3 linked regions of the Homo sapiens genome follow. The protein of the gene in region 2 interacts with the protein of the main gene of each other region in a pairwise test. Each region holds a gene or a part of one and is shown on either strand. Other genes may lie near its edges.

Region 1 (7,364 bases), on a different chromosome or scaffold from region 2:
GGAGCAGTTGGAGCCATACCAGAACATGAGCATGAAAAGAAACTTAGAGAACTCATGGCTAAAGGTACTAGTTTCACAGAGGGGAAAATAAGCCCAGAGAGATGCAATGGCCCACCCAATAATCCACAGCTGGTTGGCATCAGAGCTGACACAAGAGGCTGGGTCTCTCCACCAACCCTCCAGGCTCCTTCTGCTGGCCTGAACCATGCTGCCTTGCACTCCCGTAACAAGGTTTCCTCCAGAGAGAGCACCCTGCAAGTCAGAGTACTCTGACGGTAGTTTCTCCAGGAAAGCAGCCTGGTGTTGGGTTCCCTTCAGAGAGGTCCCAAACAGAACGAGAACCCTCCACCCTCAACTGGAAGCAGCCCACCAGGCAGGTTACCTGTGGCAAAGGCCTTTCCACAGCTGGGGAAGTCACATCTGTATGGACGGTCACCTGTATGAGCTCGTTCATGCACCTGTGAGGACAAGCAATCACATAATTCAGAGGAGCAAGGGTATGACCAGGGCTCTTTGGTTTTCTTTAGGACCCTGATTCTCTTCCCTCCTGTACCATTCATGTGTGTCAAGCGCTCTGTGCTGGCATTCCTGTGTACCCTCATTTCTTCCCTCCAGCAACGTGAGGGCAGGGACCAATTCCAATCAAAGCAGAAAGGTAGAATTACAGCCTGGGAGGGAAGACTGCAGAGCTGACGGCTGTCTGCCAGCAACCTTACCTTTAAGTGATGAGCGGTGGTGTAGAGACGCCCACAGCCCTTGTAGCCACAGCGGAATGCTCTGTCTCCAACTTGCTGCCCTTTTCCATTACGGGGAATCTGGCTGTCATGAAGAACCTGGGGGAAAAGTCTTGAGATCCCTATATGTATTCTCCCCAGTGAAGAAGGTGGGACACAGGGCCCTGCTGGCAGCTTAAGACCCAACAGGCAGGGTTAAACCTGTCAGGGGCCTCTGGGGCAGAAGAACATAACTAGACGGACAAGGAACAGATGCTGGGGCATGCTACAGAAGAAACAGGGTGGGCATGGGGAGTCACCACCCATCTCTGATGGGATAAAGGGAGACCTACAGGTCATAGTGGCTGTGACGGCTATTGAAGAAAGGCTATCACATAGACAGCTAGGTAAGGTGAAAAGGGAGGTTGTCTGAATGGCCATGCTTGAACTGGACCAAGTGCCAGAAACCCTCCTTCTAAGCACACACACCTAGGAGCCTGCAACTCTCAAGACCTCCATCTTCTGATGGGAGGGGTCCCCTTCCTCCTGGCACGAAACTAGTGCTTAAAAGTACATAAACAAGGGGGCTTGCTGTGGAGATGAGCTCACCTAGGTTCATCTGATAGGACTTGGGGCCCAGAGTGAGGTGGCCACGACCAGAAGCACCCAGGGGAGTGCTGCAGTTTCCACCAGAAATGTCAGCTCTAATGACAGCACCCAGCTGACAAGTCCTCCCCTTTTGTCTCCTCTTCTGGGATATTGCTAAAGCCACCCATCTCACACCAGCCTCTGGATGCAGGGAGCCCTTATTGCTCTTCTGCTTTCCTGGGCAGGGTCCTGGTGGGACTATCCCTTAGTCTTTCTTTCTAGAATGCTTCAGAATCACACTCTGGTCTTTCCAGGAGCTCCTGAAACTGAACTCTACAAGTTACAGTGAGCAGGGGACAGAGGGGTGAGGCCAAATTCATGGCAAGGTCTGTCTAGTTAGGCTCCAGCTCAGAGGCTCAAGCAGCTGAGAGCTTCACGGACACTTAAACAGCTTCTGGGTAGAGGGTAGGGTCAGAGGTGGCCTGACCTGCTTGGCGGGCTAACCCACACAGGCACTTGGATTTCATTCCATGTCTCACTAGCTCCTGGGGTAATCACGGGAATCAAGGGACATCAGGGATGGAAGTGACCTCTGAGATCATCTGGTCCCATCTCATCATATTAGGAATAAGCTGAGGTCGAGGAGAGGAGGGACTCACCCAAGTTTGGACTAGGTAGAGGTAGAGCAAGCATAGATCTCAGGGCTCATGATTTAAATAAAACCCACTTCTCTTTACATCAACATCGAGTCTCAAATTTGGTCTCTAAGATATACCTCAGGGAACCTGGGTGGGAGTGAATGTAGCCTACTGTAAAGTTTTGTGACTTTTTTTTTTTTTTTTTTTTTTAGATAGGATCTCCCTCTGTTGCCCAGGCTGGAGTGCAGTGGGACAATCTCAGCTCATTGCAGTCACCGCCTCCTGATCCTCCCACCTCCGCTTCCCAGTAGCTGGGACCACAGGTGCGCACCACCATGCCCAGCTAATTTGTTTTTGTATTTTTGTGTAGAGATGAGGTTTCGCCATGTTGCCCAGACTGGTCTCAAACTCCTGGACTCAAGCGATCCACCTGCCTCAGCCTCCCAAAGTGCTGGGATTACAGGCGTGAGCCTCTGCTCCCGGCCTGTGCTTCATTTTGAAAAGACATGAGGACTTCCTTTTTTCCTCCATCATTCAGTCACACTGGTTTCATTATAAATAAAAAACCTCCCCCATCTTCGGGTAAAACTGCTGGAAGGAAGGAACGTGCAGGAAGCCCTGGCACATCCAGCCTGAGGCTCTGTAGTCATTCCAGGAAGGGAACACCCTGGTTTGGAAAGCTCAGAGATGTCTGTACCCTTTTCCCCACATGCAGGACCATGGTTTCGGCAGAAAGAACTTGGACTGACTGGTATTTGCAGAGCCAGGACCCTTTTCCTTTCCAGCTGAGCTACTGTGTGGGCCTCATAATCCAGGAATCCCAGCTGTTCTGTTGCACATGCCCTTGTCATAGCCCACTGAGGTTAATTTTCCAAATGACTGAGTCACAGAGAAGAAATAAATACAATTACCTCAGTGGACTAGAAAGCTAATACAAGTCACTGGCAGGGCTTTCCCAGCTAGTGCAGAGGATTACTACAGCAGCCAAAGTGAAGCTGGGCCTAACTCCTCAGCATAAGGATGCCACTGTTTCTTATGGCAGCTTTCCCTCTGCAAAGACAGCGTAAACAAAAGTGAGCGTAAACAGCTGTCAGCGGCCAGGCCAGGCTGTGTTGCATGCCCTAGACAATGATGTGTGACAGGTGAGTTGGGGGAGCTGGGGTGGAGGGGCAAAGGGAATATCCCACATGGTGCCCAAGCACAGGGCTGCCCTTGTCCTCTTGAGAGGTGAAGTTCTGGCAGGGCCAAGAGGCAGTGCGCAGGCCAGGCCCGGTTGTCTAGAGTGACAGACCGTGTCACGCTGTGCGTGCTCACCTTGCTGGCATACTGCTCCAGGGCCACCACTGCGTCTGCACTGAAGCCCTCATCATCCTCTGCTGCCAGGTCCTCCAAGCCCACCTCTGTCTGTACGGCCAGGATGGTGCTCTCCGATGGCACAGCCACAGGGTGGTGAATGTAGGCAGTGGAGCCATCTTCCAGTTGGACGGCTTCCAGGGTGCTGGGGTCATAGCCTTCTGCAGGGAACACGCGGTTAGCCCTGATGCCACACAAGGGGAAGAGATACAGCTGGGACCCTAGCTTTAAGTTAATGAGAGATACATATACCAAGGAGGGTTTCAACATCCAATTTCTCATGGCCCTTCACTTTGTGATTCACTCTTGCTGGCCCTCCTTCTGCAGCTGTCTCACCTAAGGATGAGGTCTCCTATGGTACACTAAATGGGAACTCACAAGCTCCTTGAGGACCTGACAGGGGCCCATCATCATTTTGGCTTAGATGACCACAATAGCCTCCTGACCAGTCGCTCCTCACCCCCTCTAGTTCCCTCCAGGCAGCACAACATCCAGAGGGATCTTTGCGGGACACAAATGTGACCATGTCACTTAACTGCCTCAACAGTTTAAATGCTTCCCACTGGTCTCAGGATAAAGACCAAAATCCTCACCCTGACACTCAAACCCAGAGTGCACCAGCCCTGTCTTTCTCTCTCCAGTTTCCTCCTGCTCATTCTGCCTTCACTCCCAGGGCTCTAGCTCCTAGCAGTTCCTGGAATGTGCTGTTCTTTCTTCCCCCCAGCTCTAGGCCTGCACATGCTATTCCTTCTGCCTGAAGTACTGAACCCTCCCTGCCATCCCTCTTCCCCCAGCTAAGTCTACCTCATTCTTTACCTCTCAGCTCAAGCATCACTACCTCAGAGAAGCCCTCCCTGAGCCTGATCTCTGTTTGTAATGATCAGTTCATCACTGATGGCTTGTTTCACTTCTGTTTCCCCCTCTAGACTCTAGGAGAGCGGGGACTGTGTCTGACTTTGTTCTGTCTTGTATACTGCACACCTAACACAACGCCAGGCATGCAACAGTCACTCAAGAAACCACCTGCGGAAGGAATAAATTGTTATTCTTCAGCACCTTAGGAGCTTCATTCTAAAATATTAGTTTTTTTTCCTGGTCTTGGATGATATCCTCGGGTCCTATTTAAAGCCCTAAGACTTTGTGGCTGTGCTGGAGCCAAGGCCACCATCAAAGTCCACGTCACTGATCTCCAAGGCTCACCTCCCAGTTGCAGACATAGCTGCTCCTGTGGTCTGCACCAGGGAAGGTGGGCAAGGCTGCTAATCCAGGTGAGCATGTGTGTACCATGGAGATGACAGCTCCCATGTCTACACCCCAGTTGTGTGCCATCCCATCCTCCAGTCCTGCCACCCCATCCTCCAGTCCTGCCTCCCATCCTTCCCCGAGTTGTGATGATGGTGACCCTACCTCTGGGTGTGCGGTGTATGTAAGCCATGCTGCCATCTTCCAGCTGCACAGGCTGACCATCCTCAAAGGAGAGAGCTTCTGTAACGAGAGCAATGCCTGCCTTTCCCTGGAGCTCAGTGCCATGGAGGGGTCCCTTGGTGGGGGCTGTCAGGCTTCCCTCGACAAGGCATGGTGTGTTGGGGTGCCCTCACCTTTCTGTACCGTCACCTGGTGAATGTATGCGGTGGTCCCATCCTCGAGCTGGATCACCTGCCCTTCAAGAAGCTTCTCTCCTGTTAAGAGTGGAAATAGAGAGAAATGGGCCAGGACCAGAAGAGGGCTAAGAAACGCCTGCCTGTTTTTAGCTGAGGCTTATTTGAGTCTCTAGGCACGAGCCTGCAGGTCTAAGCATGGGTAACATCTTCCTTGTTCCCTTGCTCTGTCTCCCTGGGCCTGGGCCTTGAGACACTAAGGGTGAAGACACTTGCCTTGCCGAACCCATCACCTCCCAACAGATTCCCTTCCAGTTACTAACAGGAGGAATAACTTCACTTATTATTCTACCCATGCCCAGCCAAGTGGAAACTTCCAACCTAATAGTAAGTTGCTGAGACTTGAACTAATGGCCCTTAAACCTGGATGAGCCCCAGTGGGTCAAAATTCAGATATAGCTCAAACTAACAAAATCAAAACATATCCCCTCATCCCTCACTATGACAGTGTGCTAAGACCAGGAGCCCCTGTGAAGGCAGGATATATAGCTTAATGGTTAAAAACAATAGACTCTGGAACCAGGCCAGGCCTCCAGAGTTTGAATTCCAGCTCTACCTCTTAACAGCTGTGTGACCTTGGACAGCTTATTTAACTAACCTCTCTGTGCCTCAGTTTCCTTTTCTTAAAATGGGGATTGAAAACTGTGTCTCTTATAGGGTTGCTGTTAGGGTTAAATGAGTTAACGAATATAAAAAACTGGGAAGAGTGCCAGGTATATATGGTCAGCCCTCAATAAATCCTAGCTTTTATTATAAGCCCAATATGCATTTTAGAAGAAATGGAAAGTAAAGCAATAGAGAACTATGTGAGCACAACTATTATGCTATTATGTGTCCATGAAGGTCTTATTCCACTGCCACTGTTGAGTAATGTTCCTTCATTGACCTCTCATTTTTCATTTCAATTTTCTAGTAAAAAATTAGATCACCTAAGGCAACACAACAAGCAGCATAAAAATTAACAAGCCTCCAGATTTCCTAAGATATTACTCTTCCTTTACCTTACTGGAAAGCACTTCTAATAAGGCTCTTGAAATTAGAACTAGACGACCCTTCCTTGTGTCCAGTGAGTCTGACAGAGGGGGAAGGAAGAAGAGAAATGAGAAAGGAAAGAAAGGGAGATTGAAGAGTTAATGATGGTCAGATTCGGTGGCTCATGCCTATAATCCCAACACTTTGGGAGGCCAAGGCGGGTGGATCGCTTGAGCTCAGGAGTTTGAGACCAGCCTGAGCTATGTGACAAAACCCTGTCTCTACAAAAAACACAAAAATTAACTGGATGTAGTAGTGCATGCCTGTGGTCCCAGTTACTCGGGAGGCTGAGGTGGGAGGATTGCTTGAGCCCAGGAGGCAGAAGTTGCAGTAAGCCGTGATTATGCCACTGCAGTCCAGCCTGGGTGACAGAGTAAGACCCTGTCTGAAAAAAATAAAAAATAAATAAATAAAAAGGCTGGGCACGGTGGCTTACATCTGTAATCCCAGCACTTTGGGAGGCCAAGGCGAGCAGATCACCTGAGGTCAGGAGTTTGAGACCAGCCTAACCAACATGGTGAAACCCTGTCTCTACTAAAAATACAAAAAAATTAGCTGGGTGTGGAGGCAGGTACCTGTCGTCCCAGCTACTCGGAAGGCTGAGGCAGGAGAATCACTTGAACCCGGGAGGCGGAGGTTGCAGTGAGCTGAGATTGTACCACTGCACTCTAGCCTGGGTGACAGAGTGAGGTCCTGTCTCAAAAAGAAAAAACAAAAAAGTAAGGCTGGGTGTGGTGGCTCACACTTATAATCCCAGCACTTTGGGAGGCTGAGGCAGGCGGATAACCTGAGGTCGGGAGTTCGAGACCAGTCTAGCCAACATCATGAAACCGTGTCTCTACTAAAAATACAAAAAAATTAACCAGGCGTGATGGCACATGCCTATAGTCCCAGCTACTCGGGAGGCTGAGGCAGGAGAATCGCTTGAACCCGGGAGGCGAAGGTTGCAGTGAGCCGAGATCACGCCACTGCACTCCAGCCTGGGCTACAGGGTGAGACTCCGTCTCAAAAAAAAAAAGGAAGAAAAAATAAAAAAAAAGTTAATGACAAGTGATTTGTCCTTTCCTTAGAAGATTGAGGTTTAGGAAACTGAGCGCTCAGGTGGGAAAGACAGTTACTTCCAGCCCAAGTCTCTGCTGACGTCTCCCCTTTAGAGGAATCCCCAAACTTGCTCCCAAACTGAGTCTTCTTGGGGTCAGTAACTAACAGTCCTACAACTAACCAAAGGCAGGTAAGGTGGAGATAAAGGTAAGAAATAGGAAAGGCAGCTGAGATGGGGGGAAGATGAACCCATTTTCTTCCCTCCCACCCACAGAGCAGTAGGCTACCCTCATTTTAACAATTTATCTGTCCTGGCAAGGGCATCAGTACTTGGGGTTCTG
Region 2 (7,902 bases):
AATATTTGATGAAGGAGTAGATGGATGGATGAAATTGTTCTTATCCTTTTACCTTTTTTTTCTACTTTGAGGCCTATGCTCTGAGGAATTAATCCAAAAGAATAGTATTTTGGCCAGGTGCAGTGGCTCATGCCTGTAATCCCAGCACTTTGGAAGGCCAAGGCAGATGGATCATGAGGTCAGGAGATCGAGACCATCCTGGCCAACATGGTGAAACCCCGTCTCTACTAAAATACAAAAAATTAGCCAGGCGTGCTGGCGTGCGCCTGTAGTCCCAGCTACTTGGGAGGCTGAGGCAGGGGAATCCCTTGAACCCTGGAGGCGGAGGTTGCAGTGAGCAGAGATTGTGCCATTGCACTCCAGCCTGGCGACAGAGAGAGACTCCATCTCAAAAAAAAAATAGTATTTTATATAAATACATTCATTGCTGTGCTATTAATAATAGTAAAAAAATGGAACATTACGAATGCCAACAATAGGAAAACACCTAGATCAGGAATGCTATGTCCACATCGTGAACTCTGTTTAAACAAGAAAAAAAAAGTGTGCATAAAACAAGTCTTACTCTCTGTGCCTGGAGAAAATGGCAGAATAAGTGGTCCAGTTCAGGGTCACTTGGTGTCTGGTTGACATTTGTCAATTATTTTGGTTAAGTGGAGAACGGAGAGTGCAGCACGCACCACATGGAACACTGAAACCCTCCTGGCCACTGAGAGCTGGGGAGCGAGAGTGAAGAAGAAGCCTGGCATTGCTTTTTAAATGAAAGTCAACCAAAGAACATCAAAACTAAAGTTTCCTTACATTCTTGGTCAAGAGGTGCTGAGAGCTTTTGGCTCTTCTTCTGGCTGGACTGGATACTGCAAAGACAGAGAGAAAGAAATGGTTTTAGACAACATCAGCGAGGCTGACATAGCTACAGTAACAACACTGAGAAGGTTTGAATCTGTGGCGAGGCAGGGGCATAGAGGAGGGGACGGGAAAAAGAGACAGGGTCGTTGCGATTGAAGATGTTACTTGGCTTGAGTACAAAGTTCATAGCTGCATTACTCACAAGAGCTGAAGTTTGGGAACAACCCAAATGTCCACCAACAGATGAATGAATAAACAAAATATGGTGTCTGTATGTGATGGAATATTACTCAGCCTTGAAAAGGAATGGAATTCTGATACATGCCACACATGGATGAACCTTGAAAACATGGTACTAAGTGAAATAAGCCGGACACAAAATGTCACATAGTCTACAATTCCTCTTAATATGGGGTTCCTAGAGTAGTCAAATTCATAGAGACAGAAAAACAAACAAACAAAAGGACAAAAAACCAAATTTGTAGGACAAAAAGTAGAATGGTGGTTACTGGTGGCTGGAAGAGTGGGGGAATGAGTTAGTGTTCAACGGATTCAGAGTTTTAGTTTGGGATAATGAAGAAGTGCTAGGATGGATGGGGGTGATGGTTGCACAACAATGTGAATAGACTTAATGCCACTGACCTGTACACTTAAAAATAGTTTTTAAAATGGTACATTTTGTTATGCATATTTTGCCACAATTATAAAAAAGCTTAAAGAAATTAACCATTAAACATGTTACTTGGTTGGGAAAAGGTTTTACAGCAACTTCACAAGATAGCTACTCTTGTACCACAAGGAAGTGGCCATGAATGAAAATGGGAAGGGAAAAAAGATAAGATTAAATATTTATCTTTGACTGATCATGTTGATTATTCTAAATACAAAATAAAATTGGAAATCACTTTTTAAGTGATGTATTTAATGGTGCTTACTACATGCCAGCTACTGTTCTAGATGCTTTATATATTTACTCATTTATTCCCCATATGATCCTGGAAGATAAGTTGTTTCTCCCATTTACAGCAGTGGAAACTCAGGCCCAGAGAGGTTAAGTAGCTTGCCCAAGGTCACACAGTGCAGAAGTGGCAGCAGTCTCTTAACCACTTCGTTTTGACTTTTTCTTCCTTTAAAAATTTTGTAAATGGAAGTAAATGATAGAAAATAAACACATGTAACATTTTCATATTTCCTTCTACTTTGTTTTCTTCTCATATACAAGAAATACAAAATCAGAGGCAATGTTTTGGTTCTCTTTCTACCCTTCCCTAATTCTCCTTCCCTACCTTCCCAAGACTACTGAGATCACTAATTTTATCTGTATCTTTCTGGTCTATGTTTTTGTATTTTTCTCTAGATACATATCCATAAACAATATATAGTATTGGTTTATATTTTCAAATTTACAGAAATGCTATCTTACATATATAATTTTTCAGCCTGCTTATTTGGCACTCAGCATTATGCTTAGATCTACCTATGTTCACAGGCATACATCTAGTTTATTCCTGTTGACATTGTATAGTATTCCACAGCATGACAGCACCACATTTTAACCATTCCCCTCTTCATGGACACTCAGGTTATTTTCAGTTGTGCCTTCTTAGAATCAATGCCACCGTGAACATCCAGGGGTAAGAGGAGTTCCACCCAAAAGCGAAACTGCTGATTCCGAGGGTCAACTTGGACTTTCAGAGTTTCCAGAGGGAATTCCAACTCCTGCACGTGGGCAGCAGACTCCCAGCTCTTTTCCCTCTCTCTGGATCTGGCAGTAAATGTCTAAAGCTTAATTTATGTCCTGCAGGCTGTCTCTTTGTGGCCAAACGGAATCTCTCCCTGCCCCACTGTGCAATGGCCCTGTCAGCGGCTGACACAGGGGAAGAAAGGAATTGTTTGAATGTGGGCTCACAACACCAGCAAACACCCAGCCTACTTCATTCAAGGCTGACAATGAGACCAGGGGCTAAGCCTGAGTCATGGAGGTGGATGGGAGGGGGCAAGACAGGAGCGCAGGCAGAGAACAGAGGCGGCAGGAGAGGGGGCCATGCTTAGGAGAGGCTGAGGGGACTGACCAGGAACCAGACACTTGGAGTCATCAGAACCCTCACACAAAGCCCTTAACACCGTTCACTGAGGACCACAAGAGCTTATAAAGTCAAGACTCTCGTGTCGCATTCTCTGGCAGCATTAGTTCCGGGTTAAGTTTGCAAGGTGGCCCTGGGTTCTGTGGAGAAGCCAGCCCAGGGTCAGGGCGCTCTCTGACGGCTTCACTGGACTTCAAGCAGCCACCGGGAGTATTTCTCCGCACTTTGCATGGCACAGTTAGAAATCATACTTTTAAGCCAGCTGTTCTCATTTCAGAACCCACTTGCTCACTGGAAAAAATGAAAGTCTCTATCTAGCTACCCTGGGATTTTGTTTTCACCTGTGTGCATAGCAATGGCTTGCTGTCACTTCCATTGGTGTACTGGACTGTTGGTACTGAATTAAATGAGACAGGGAGTATTTAGCTGCTCTCGCCTTCCCCTTGATGGATTGTTTCTCAGTGATTGATGTTTATCCTTGTGCCTCTTTCCCCCCTCCAAAAAATCAAATACCATCAAAACCGAGAGTCCATCAGACCCCAGAGACCTGAGGATAAACCGTAGTAAGGCAGCACGTGACTGTCCTTCCCCTCCTGCCTAAGATGCCACGTTAAGGAAACAGTCAAGGGCAATTTCACTCACCCTTGGAAGGAATCACGGTGGTGAAAACTTCTATGTTCTCGTCACTGCAGCTGTAAATCTGATGCATCATTTCAGCCTCCTCTTCCCGAAGTGCCTGGGAACTGGAGGCCTCTGTCTCTGGACCCCTAGTCGCGAGGCATCCTAATCCAGTCTGGCTCAGGGATCATTGTGCGGGTCCACAAAAGACAGGCTGGTGCTATGAGCTCATCTCGTTCCAGTCTTCACTGCAACATTTTCTAAACCCATCTGTCCTTTTTTTTTTTTTTTTTTTTAAATGAATCCTATTATTGCAAACCTTTGATTGAGCCTGGAGGCTTCAATCCCCTCCCAGCTAGGATGTATTTAACATTTTTATTTTGCGGTGTCTGCCGCAGTGAATTTGGAAGCCTTTTGTGAGGTGACGACGAAGTGAAATCGCCTACTCTGTTAGCGCCAAGCTTGGCTGGAGAATTTCCACCAAAAAGGAAACGTGAATTTTGGTACCAGCAATTCCCTTTCTCATTTCAGAAATGAAGGGGCTTTTTTTTTTTTCTCCCCTCCAGGAGAACGGGATATTCAGTAATTTGTCATGTGCTAACTTGGCTCTCTTAGAAGTTTCTATTTTAAACAAAAGGACTGTTTCTCCAGTGTTTTCCCCTCATGCCATTACATGACAAGGCTGACATTTCTCAAGGGTCCTGTGTTTGGTACCTCCGCGTATAACCCTTAGGTGCTCACAGAGACATGGCAACAGGCAGTGCCCCATGTTCAAGGAGCAAATTATAGAAAGTTATATTTGTATTACCCTATATATCCTAATATATTATATAAACCCTATTATGCTACATATACAGGTTACAGATTATATACTGTCCCGTATATCATATTTATTATATATGTATGTATATCATATGTATATATGTATGTGTATATATATATATCATATATATTTGTGTATGTATATATATCATATATATTTGTATATATGATATATGTATATATAGCATATGTATATATTTGTATTACCCTATATATATTTGTATTACCCTATATATCCTAATACATTTATCCTATATATTTATTATCTTATAAATCCTATTATGCTACATATAGAGGTCACAGGTTATATACTGTTCCATATATCATATATATCATGTGTATATAATATCATATATATCATGTGTATATATCATATATATCATGTGTATATATATCATATATATCATGTGTTTATATGATATCATATATATCATCTGTATATATGATATCGTATATGTGATACATGTACAATGATCCCTGAGCCGGACTGGATTAGGATGCCTCGAGACTAGGGGTCCAGAGACAGAGGCCTCCAGTTCCCAGGCACTTTGGGAAGAGGAGGCTGAAATGATGCATCAGATTTACAGCTGCAGTGACGAGAACATAGAAGTTTTCACCACCGTGATTCCTTCCAAGGGTGAGTGAAATTGTCCTTGACTGTTTCCTTAACGTGGCGTCTTAGGCAGGAGGGGAAGGACAGTCACGTGCTGCCTTACTACGGTTTATCCTCAGGTCTCTGGGGTCTGATGGACTCTTGGTTTTGATGGTATTTGATTTTTTTGGAGGGGGGAAAGAGGCACAAGGATAAACATCAATCACTGAGAAACAATCCATCAGAGGGAAGGCGAGAGCAGCTAAATACTCCCTGTCTCATTTAATTCAGTACCAACAGTCCAGTACACCAATGGAAGTGACAGCAAGCCATTGCTACAGACACAGGTGAAAACAAAATCTCAGGGCAGCTAGATATACGATATCATATGCATATGATATCCTATGTATGCCCTGTATTTTATATATTCTCTATGTATATACACACAAATAAGGTTATGGTTGAAACATATGTATCATGCCAAACCCACTGCATTTTATTACACTGTTACAGCTTCATTTCTTCATACTAATACTGATGGTGATGAAATAATAATAATGAGAGTTGCCACTTATTAAATGCTTGCTATAAGTTAGGTAGTCTGATATATAATTTCATTTAATATCTACGAATACCCAATAAGACTAGCTATTATATTTGCCATCTTATAGGTGAGAAAACTGAGGCATAAAGCCACTGAGTAACTCTTGTGAGATTAAAATATCTAGTTTGTGGTAGAATTAGGATTTAATCCCTAGTTTGACTCCAAAGTCAAATGTACTTAACCGGGCCAGCCTCAGTGGCTCACGCCTATAATCCCAATATTTTGAGAGGCCAAGGCAGGAGGATCACTTGAGCTCAGGAGTTTGAGAGCAGCCTGGGCCACGTGACGAAACCCCATCTCTACCAAAAATACAAAAAATTAGCCGGGCGTGGTGGTGTGTGCCTGTGGTCCCAGCTACTCGGGAGGCTGGGGTGGGAGGATTGCTTGAGCTCAGGAGGCAGAGGTTGCAAAGAGCCAAGATTGCCCCACAGCACTCCAGCCTGGGCGACAGAGACAGACCCCATCTCAAAAAGAAAAAGTACTTAACCAGTAAATTTTACTCTATTCTTTATCTCCTGTCAACCCAAATAACAGAGAGAAGCTCTCTAAAAATATGTAGTTTAATTGGGAATTGCAGGACACAGATGCTATGACAAATCTTAGGCACATCCAGGGAGGCTAAGGTAAGGGGAAGTTTTAAAGGCAAAAGAGTACATATAGATTGTTTTGAAACAAACAGAACATTGGTTACAAGGGTTTATGACAGGAGTTGTTGTCAGTTCTTTAGTGGAGACAGTGTGTCAGGCAAGTGTTCTTGTACAAGCCGCTAGCTGTCTTTGTGTGACTCATGTAGCAAACTATGGTTTGATAACATTTCCTGTGATAGTTCCTTTTATCAGGCAAATCATGCCTGAGAGCCTCCCCCTACCTCCATGACCTCCTGGCTCTATTTTGTTAAGGCTGACATAAGTGACCCAATTTTGATTCTGACAACTTTCCCACTGCAAAGCCTTCCATTACTTTGAACTTGAGTGGACCTGATCCATATGTCTTAGACCTGGAGTTGGCATCCATTGATATCTCTATAGTAAACAAATTGAGGCATTTACTCATCAGGTAGTCGTCAATATTATATACCTCTTTCTTTGAGAATTGCACCCAGTCACAGAGGATGGCTCTGGGAAGCCATGTTTATTCTCCTTGAACTTGTCCTCTTGCCACCTTTGTCTGGACCACAGTGGACATCTAACCCAAACTACTGCCTTGTGGAAACAGAAATTGGGCTTTGGTCTGGGGCCAGAGGAAAGGTGTAAACTCTGAATATCTGGGATGTTTCTCAGGGCCCAGGGGGTAAAATTGAAGGGAAGTCAGTATAAATAAGTGAAACTGGTGGTCTGGCAGAGGCCTGGGGCCTGAATGCACATCCAGTGTAAAGAGTTTTAGCTGGAAGCGGGCACAAGTGCTTTTACCATGGTCCATACTTGGTGGGTCTGTGGTCATGTACACACGCCAGTAAGGGCCAGTGGGATGGGAGGGTGGACTGTGGGTGAAGGGAGTGTTGGGAGAGTGAGAAAGGGTGTTGGGGATTGAGACAGAGAATAAAGAGGCCCAGCTCAGGAGGGAGGGAGGATTGCACGTCTCCCGCCTTACCTCTCTCAGGCCAATGCCATGCCTATCTTGGAGTCAGTGAGATAGTGAGATAGCTCAGTCTCCATCTGATAAAGTTCCTGTTGGCTTAAGTGTACATAGGTTTTGGTCATTTTCAACTAAAAAGGAGGGCTGGGTGTGGTGGCTTACATCTGTTATCCCAGCACTTTGGGAGGTTGAGGTGGGAGGATCACTTGAGGCCAAGAGTTTGAGACCAGCCTGGGCAACACATCAAGACCTCTCTACAAAATAAAATAAAATAAAATAAAATAAAATAAATAAAATAAAATAAAATAAAATAAAATAAAATAAAATAAAATAAAATAAAGATTAGCTGGGTGTAGTGGCACATGCCTGTAATCTCAACACTTTGGGAGGCTGAGGTGGGAGGATCCCTCGAGCTCATGAGTTCGAGGCTGCAGTGAGCTATTACATTATTGTGCCACTGGACTCCAGCCTGGGACACAGAGTGAAACACTGTCTCTAAAATAATAATAACAATAAATAAAAAGGATAGCGTCTAAAAGTCTTCTTTGTGCCTGCTGTCTATAAATTTTATGATCTCCCCAGTGATACATTTTTAGATAATGTAAAGTTTAGACGAGTACCTACTGCAATAGAAGTGGAGATCTAAAATTGTTTTAACAGACTGGACTGTTGTACCAACATCTACAAGATGAAATTTAACAAAACTAAATGTAATCATCTATCTTTACATTAACACAAATAATTGATTTGGTACAGAA
Region 3 (7,364 bases), on a different chromosome or scaffold from region 2:
GTTGTGTATTTTTAAATTTAGCTCTTGCATATTTCTTGTTAGGAAATACCTTGTTATTTCCTAGGTATTTTATAACTTTTATTGCTATTGTAAATGGGAACCAAGCACCTTTCTGAAAACTGTTTTGTTTTAGACTTTCTTGTACCAGTATATAACTGGATTTCATTTTGTTTCTGAGACTCAATTTGAGAGGCTTTGTCCTTTAAAAGGGGAATTCAAGCCGGGTATGGTGGCTCATGCCTGTAATCTTAACACTTTGGGTGACCGAGGCAGGAGGATTGCTAGAGGGCAGGAGTTTGAGACCAGCCTGGGCAATATAGTGAGACCACATCTCTAGAAAAAAAAAAATTTAATTAGCTGGGCATGGTGGCTTGTGCCTGTAGTCCTAGCACTTGAGAGGTTGACATGGGAAGATCACTTGAGCCCAGGAATTCAACGCTGCAGTGAGCTCCGTTCACACCACTGCACTCCATCTTAGGCTGCAGAGTGAGACTCTGTCAAATAAATATATAAAACAAATATACATACATCAATTTGAAGTGAAATATTGAATTATACTAATTTGGACTTAAAAAGCTTCTAAATAAACATCTGAAGTAATAAACATCTTAAGTCATATTACCAGGAGGCCTATTAGTTATATCTTGAAGTATGACCAGGGACAAAGATTCAAGAGCAAAATGCTATCTTTATATTGTGAAACTTTTTATTAAATAGGCTGAACTTGATGGTGGTAATAGGAAATGGCTTTATTCTTCTCTCTTTAAACATGCTTTTTGAGGTCTCCCTTTTTTTCCTCGGATGATATGTAAGGTAGAACCCATCACTTATGGGGAGAGGGTTATAGTCAAATAGTATACTATCTTAATATATTAAGATACCTAAAATTCAATCCAGGCATCAATGATATTATTTTTGGAGACAGGGTCTTGCTCTGTTGCCCAGGCTGAAGTGCATTATCATAGCTCACTGCAGCCTTGAATTCCTGGGCTCAAGTGATCCTCCTGCCTCAACCTCCCAAAGTGCTGGGATTACAGGCATGAGCCACCACACTCAGCCTGGGGATTGCTGTTAATTTCCTTAAATAGTCTGATAATGTTCTTGTGAGTTTGTAGGAGAATATGCCTACTTTTAAAAGATGCATGCTTTATTATTTGAGGGTGAAGAGTTTCTTCAAATGGTTCACCTAAAAATATAGATAGTGAGCAAATATGGCAAAATACTAACAATTTTTGAACCTAGGTAGTGTTTGTAATAGTTAATTTTGTTTCAACTTTACTGCGGCATAGGATGCCCGATATTTGGTTAAACATTATTCTGGATGTGTCTGGGAAGGTGCTTCTGGATGAGATTGACATCCGAATCAGTAGACTTTAGTAAATCAGACTGCCTTTCCTAATGGGGTGGGCCTCATCCAATGATTCAAAGCCCTGAGTAGAACAAAAGGCTGAATAAGAGGGAGCTCCTCCTCCCTGACTGCTTTCAAGATGGGACACTGGTTTTTTTCTTGCCTTCAGACTCAAACTGAAACATTAGCACTTGCAGGGGTCTCAGTCTGCCTGCATTTGGACTGCAAATACCCATTACCTTTTCTGGGTCTTCGCTTACTCACTGCAGATCTTGGGACTTGTCAGTCTTCATAATTGCATGAGCCAATTCCTTATGATAATTTTCTTTGTATATTTAATGAAATATGTGTATATAATATATATAGACATAAAGCACTCCTTTAAAATATATAACTTTGTAGGCATAGGATAAATATTTTGACTATATACACTATGTTTTTTTAAAGGTGCTGTGTAGCATCAATTCAATTATCCACAATCCAAGAGCTCCAGTAATAATTTATAAACAGACCAAAGGGGGAGTCCAAAATTTTAATAAAGATCTTGTTCAAGATTGTGGATTTGAGCATCTTGTTCCTGTAATAGAAATGTGGGCAGATCAACTGACATCCTTAAAGGTAAGGGGTTGACTATGATTATATGCTTTGAACATCTATTGGACTCTATGTGCTTTATTAATAGGACTTAATTCAGGGCTAAAAATTAAATAGGGTTTAATTTTTTTGTTTGTGTGTTAACTCTAAAGCTAAAAAAGCTTATTATCTAAAACCGAAATCTTCCTACTTACATATCTATTTTAGGTACTGTCTATTTGATGTTGTCATTACTGTAAGCTTTACCTCCTCTAAGATTCTACCAAACAAGAAATTTTGGGGTTAGTTTCCTTATTGAAAATCTATAGTGGATCCACTTTGTACTTCTAGGCCCTTCCCTGTTCTACCTTCATCTGCCTCCTTTTCATATCTCCATGCTGCGATTTTCCTGGCCCTTATCCCTCTTCAGATATAATGTCTTATCCTTCATTTTATTATAATTGGGGATATTTTCTCTCTCTTCACACTTTATTTTCTGTCTCTCAGAACTGAGCTTATCTCCATTTCTGCTTATTCTCTAGAACAGATAGTAAGCTAGCAGCCAACGCTACCCTTCCCTATCCTATCTCTTCATGGAAGACCACATTTTATTTATAGAGTTATTGTGTATTTATTGCATAGCTTCAGGTTTTTTCAGTTTTTGTTAACTAGTTTGCTGAAAGGTAAATAGTTGAAATCAGTAGTATTTAACTTCTTTGCCCTTTACACTTTAGATTTATTAGTAACTAATATAATACATAGCATATGCCTGTTAATGAAAATGTGATTCAATAACAGTGTTTGCAACATAAGTCTTATTACATGAAGTACAAATGATGCAGAAGATATCTGTTAAGAATGTATAAGCTCCATGAAGACAGTGTTTTTATTTGTTCTGATATGTCCCCAAGATCCTCCTGATGAATGAGTGCTCAATTAATATTTGTTAAAAGGAATGAAGCAGAATATTATATTCCAAGACAACAAAATTGGGGGTGGTGATGTTAATTTTTTTTAAATTTCGACTTCCCTTTTTATATAGGGCTCAGACAGAGCTATACAATACATAAACATTTTGATTGAGTGACAGTGCTAGATTAATATACTTACTTTATAGACCGGAGTTCCTCCAGTCTGTATCTCAGAAGAGTGTAAAATAATTAGTAATAGTGTAAATCATGGTATTTCCTCAATCACTGCCTGTCAGAGGGTTCTCCCAGTAGGAGGAAACAGTGCTGACTCCACCTTTCTTCATCTCAGAAGGGATGGACTAGAAAAAGCCCTAGCCTTCCTAGAAGAAAAGACTAGAAGAGGAAGAAGACAAAGGGAAGAATCACACTAATGGATAGTTATTGATCGTTTATCATGCTAAGCCATTATGGGATGAACACAAGATTCAGACTAATTAGACAAAATATACTAAAAAATATGAAACAAAATGTAATCATTTATATCGTTAAAGGAAATGAGTGACATAAAAATAGATTACCGGTTGAAGTTCTGAGTGAATGATGCAGATAACTTGTGCTCTAGAGTCTGGAGGAGAAAGAGAACACTCTGATTGTAGCCCCCAAGAAGGGCTTTGCCATGGTGGTGAGTTCTTGCTATTGTATGGTTTTCTGAGGAGGAGGAGGAGGCAAGGAATTCGCTTTATAATTAGAATATTCTGAGGACACCCAAGAAGAAATTATTAAGAATTAGTTACTTCTGCCATTGGAGTAACTCATGGATTTTGAGCAGTGCTTCAGATATTAATACTACAGTTTCAGGGTCCAAATTAAGAAACTACATGAGATTCTCTGAGGCCTCATATCAAAGGTTATTTGATATGTAGCAACCTCTAAGTTTGGGACAACCATCTTCCCAGATTAGTTTTTTCCCTCAGGTTAAATTTGGCTTTAAAGAGTAAGATAGGTTTGAGGGATGAATGGATAAGCAAAATGTGGTATATACATATATTGCAATATTATTCAGCCATTAAAAGGAAAGAAATTCTGACCCTTGCAACATGGGTGAACATTATGAGGACATTATGCTAAGTGAAATAAGTCAGTCACAAGAAGATTCCACTTATATGATTCCACTTGTATGAGATACTTAGTGAAAATCATAGAGACAAAGTAGAGTGGTGATGGCTAGAGGGAGGAGGGAAATGGGAAGTTATTGTTTAATGGGTATAAAGTTTCAGTGTTACAAGATGAAAAGAATTATGGAGATGGATGGTGATGTTGGTTGCACAACATTATGAACATATTAACACTGAACTTACATTTAAAAATTGTTAAGATGGTGAATTTTATGGGTATTTTACTAGTTTTAAAAATTGGAAGAAAAGAAGGCTGGGAAAGACATGGAGCCAGCTGCCTCCAGCCTTGTGTCTTTTCCCTCCTGCCTTTCCAAGAAAGGTGAACTACAGATGTTGTAGCTTTCCCCAACCCAGTACACTCTTGAATACTTTTGCTTTGCTATTCTCCAGTGCTTCAGAGGCCAGACGTACACGGTAGGCTGGCTCATGGTAGTACTTCTACATCTCCACAACTGGGCAATGTAAAGAACCTAGGAGACCCTCTTATATTTTTCAGAGCTTACTTGATGGACTGTGCTACAACCATCCTGTCACTGCTTAGGAGACCAGAACATCTTTTCTTCTTAGCTTTGTAATACTCTTTTATTCTGAAGCAAAAATGTATTAGATTGGGTATGCTTTTTACCATAGATTACTTTATAAATGTGCCTTGTTCCTGGAGCATTGGTTAATAAAGGTATCATTATGCTGTTACTTGCTGACTTTTTTTTTTTTCAAATTCTAGTGGCATTGATTGTAAAACATTCATTTGACATGGAATTTATTGCTATGAATTACTAAAATAGTAACTGCCTTCCTACCAATTGAAAGGTTAAAGATACCAATATGTGAAGTCTGAGCCTTAAGTGGAGAGTGTCAAGTGAAGTACTAAAATAAGTTAGAAAAAGGAGGAACTTCTTGTACTTCTTTCTGTTCTCTAGAGCTGTGCTGTCTAGTATGGTAGCCTCTAGCTGCATGTGGTTATTGATCACTTGAAAGGTGGCTAGTCCTAATTCAGATGTGTTATAAGTGTAAAATATACACTGGATTTAGAAGACTTTGTATGGGAAAAATTAAAATAATTGATTTTATATTGAAATGATAATATTTTGGATATATTGGGTTAAATAAAATATACTAGTACAGTTAATATCACATGTTTCTTTTCACTTTCCATACTATGGCCCTAGACAACTTAAAATTACTGTGGCTCACATTACATTTCTTTTGGACAGCGTTGTTCTAAAGGACCAAGCGCTGTGCCATACACATATGGATTGAGTATCCCTTATCCACAGTGCTTGGGCCTAGAAGTATTTTGATTAAGAATTTTTTCAGATTTTGGAGTATTTGCAGAATATATGCCATTTGAGCATCACTGATCCAAAAATCCGAAATTCAGAATGCTCCAATGAGCATTTCTTTTGAGTGTCCTGTTGTTGCTCAGAGTTTCAGATTTTGGAGCATTTCAGATTTTCGGACTAGGAATTCTAAATATTTGTCGATTGATCAGTCTAGAGCTCTAAACTTTCAGTAGCCTTGCCCATTGTGCACAGTTTAAAATCAATTAGGGCACCACAACTAGGCCAAGAAAACTAAGTGGAGTATTATAATGTAGAATACATTTAGGGAACCTTTCACATTAAAAACTTGCCTGGAGATACATGTTATAACATGGATAAATCTTAAAAACATTATGCTAAGTGAGAGACGTCATTCATAAAAGACTACTTATTGTATAATTCCCTTTATGCAAAATGCCTAGAATAGGCAAATCCATAGAAACAGAAAATAGTTTAGAGATTAACCCTAGGAGCTGCAGGGAAGGGAAAATGGGGAAGGAAGGACTCTTAGTGGGTCTGAGATTTCTTTTTGGAGTAATGAATATGTTCTGAAATTGGATAGTGCTGATGTTTGTACATGTGTGAAAATATTAAAACTACTGAATTGTATACTTAGGGTAAATTTTATGGTATATGAATTACATCTCAATAAAGCTGTTATATAACATATTCAAAACCAAAATTCAAGGGCAAGTTTATTCTTTGTGTATCAACAATTCAAAATAATGAAATATTATGGAACAATAATAAATAACATAAAATTACTTAGAGCACTCAGATTCAGAATAATCAATATATAATGTTTTCTGTAAAGCCTGTGTTTACCTGGAGAAACCTAATTTTAACTGACTTGTTCTAAATTGGTAGTAGTATTTTTATTTAAAAAAAATGATGGTTACATATATATTTTTTTAACCTGTGTAATTATGTTTTATTAATTTTATAAAACATATAATATATAAAACTTATAATTTTACTAATTATGTTCTATTATGTTACTATAGAAATTATTTAAATCAATAATACCATATAGTTTCTTTTGTTATAAAGGATTTGTATAAGTCCTTGAAAACACTATCTGCAGAACTGGTACCTTGGCTTAATTTGAAGAAGCAGGATGAAAATGAAGGTATCAAAGTTGAAGATTTGTTGTTTATAGTAGATACTATGCTGGAAGAAGTTGAAAATAAGGAAAAGGTAATACCTACATGAACGGTCACCTTCTAATGTTTCTTATCTCAAAAACTGATAAATTGTGGATATTGATATTTGTTCTACTAGAGTTCTATTTGTCTTTTAAAAGTTTTTATTTGGGATTATTTTAAGATAATGAACTCTTTCTTTTTTACCTCTTTTTTGGACAGGACAGCAATATGCCACACTTTCAAACTTTGCAAGCTATTGTTTCTCACTTCCAAAAGTTATTTGATGTGCCTTCTTTAAATGGAGTCTATCCCCGAATGAATGAAGTTTATACTAGGCTTGGAGAAATGAACAATGCTGTGAGAAACCTCCAAGAACTCTTAGAATTAGGTGATGACCTAATTTGTCATTTTGGGCCCCCATTTAAGAATTTTTAATAAATTAACAAAAAGTAGATTAAAAAATGTTTAAGTGAAAAATTGAGGATAACTGAAGCATAAAATGTTTGATGTATGTAATTTTGGAAATTCTCTGTTAAAATATCCTTTTATTTCTCTTTTGCAGATAGTTCATCCTCATTGTGTGTGCTAGTAAGCACTGTTGGAAAACTCTGTAGGCTGATTAATGAAGATGTGAATGAGCAGGTTATGCAGGTATTAGGACCTGAAGACCTCCAGAGGTATTTGTTTTAAAAGTTTACAAAGTATCATCCAGAATGGCTGGGTGTGGTGGCACACGCCTGTAGTCCCAGCTACTTGGGAGGCTGATGTGGGAGGATCACTTGAACCCAGGAGTTTAAGTCCAGTCTGAGCAAGGCAGTGAGACCCTGTCTCTAAACAATAAAAATTAAAATAAGTATTATCGAGAGTTCCTGGAGGGGTGAAATTAAAGA

Evidence for each region. Proteins that work in one complex are often made in the same cells at the same time.
Region 1: the proteins of VXN (region 2) and ZNF76 interact in binary tests that used the Homo sapiens proteins (3 or more experiments, as listed by UniProt).
Region 3: the proteins of VXN (region 2) and CEP70 interact in binary tests that used the Homo sapiens proteins (3 or more experiments, as listed by UniProt).

What each region holds. Positions count from the first base shown.
Region 1 is NC_000006.12:35,283,735-35,291,098, reverse strand, and holds part of ZNF76 (zinc finger protein 76), read right to left. Parts: intron 4,974-7,364; exon of another isoform or gene 4,972-4,973; coding exon 4,891-4,971; intron 4,778-4,890; coding exon 4,700-4,777; intron 4,669-4,699; exon of another isoform or gene 4,125-4,668; coding exon of another isoform or gene 4,109-4,124; intron 3,477-4,108; coding exon of another isoform or gene 3,454-3,476; coding exon 3,254-3,453; intron 847-3,253; coding exon of another isoform or gene 834-846; coding exon 717-833; intron 459-716; coding exon 383-458; intron 1-382. UniProt on the Homo sapiens protein: May be involved in transcriptional regulation.
Region 2 is NC_000008.11:66,489,392-66,497,293, reverse strand, and holds the start of VXN (vexin), read right to left. Parts: upstream 3,729-7,902; 5' UTR 3,646-3,728; coding exon 3,576-3,645; intron 858-3,575; coding exon 802-857; intron 1-801. UniProt on the Homo sapiens protein: Required for neurogenesis in the neural plate and retina. Strongly cooperates with neural bHLH factors to promote neurogenesis.
Region 3 is NC_000003.12:138,499,897-138,507,260, reverse strand, and holds part of CEP70 (centrosomal protein of 70 kDa), read left to right. Parts: intron 1-1,795; coding exon 1,796-1,966; intron 1,967-3,383; coding exon of another isoform or gene 3,384-3,425; exon of another isoform or gene 3,426-6,011; intron 6,012-6,379; coding exon 6,380-6,526; intron 6,527-6,693; coding exon 6,694-6,862; intron 6,863-7,036; coding exon 7,037-7,151; coding exon of another isoform or gene 7,152-7,164; exon of another isoform or gene 7,165-7,364.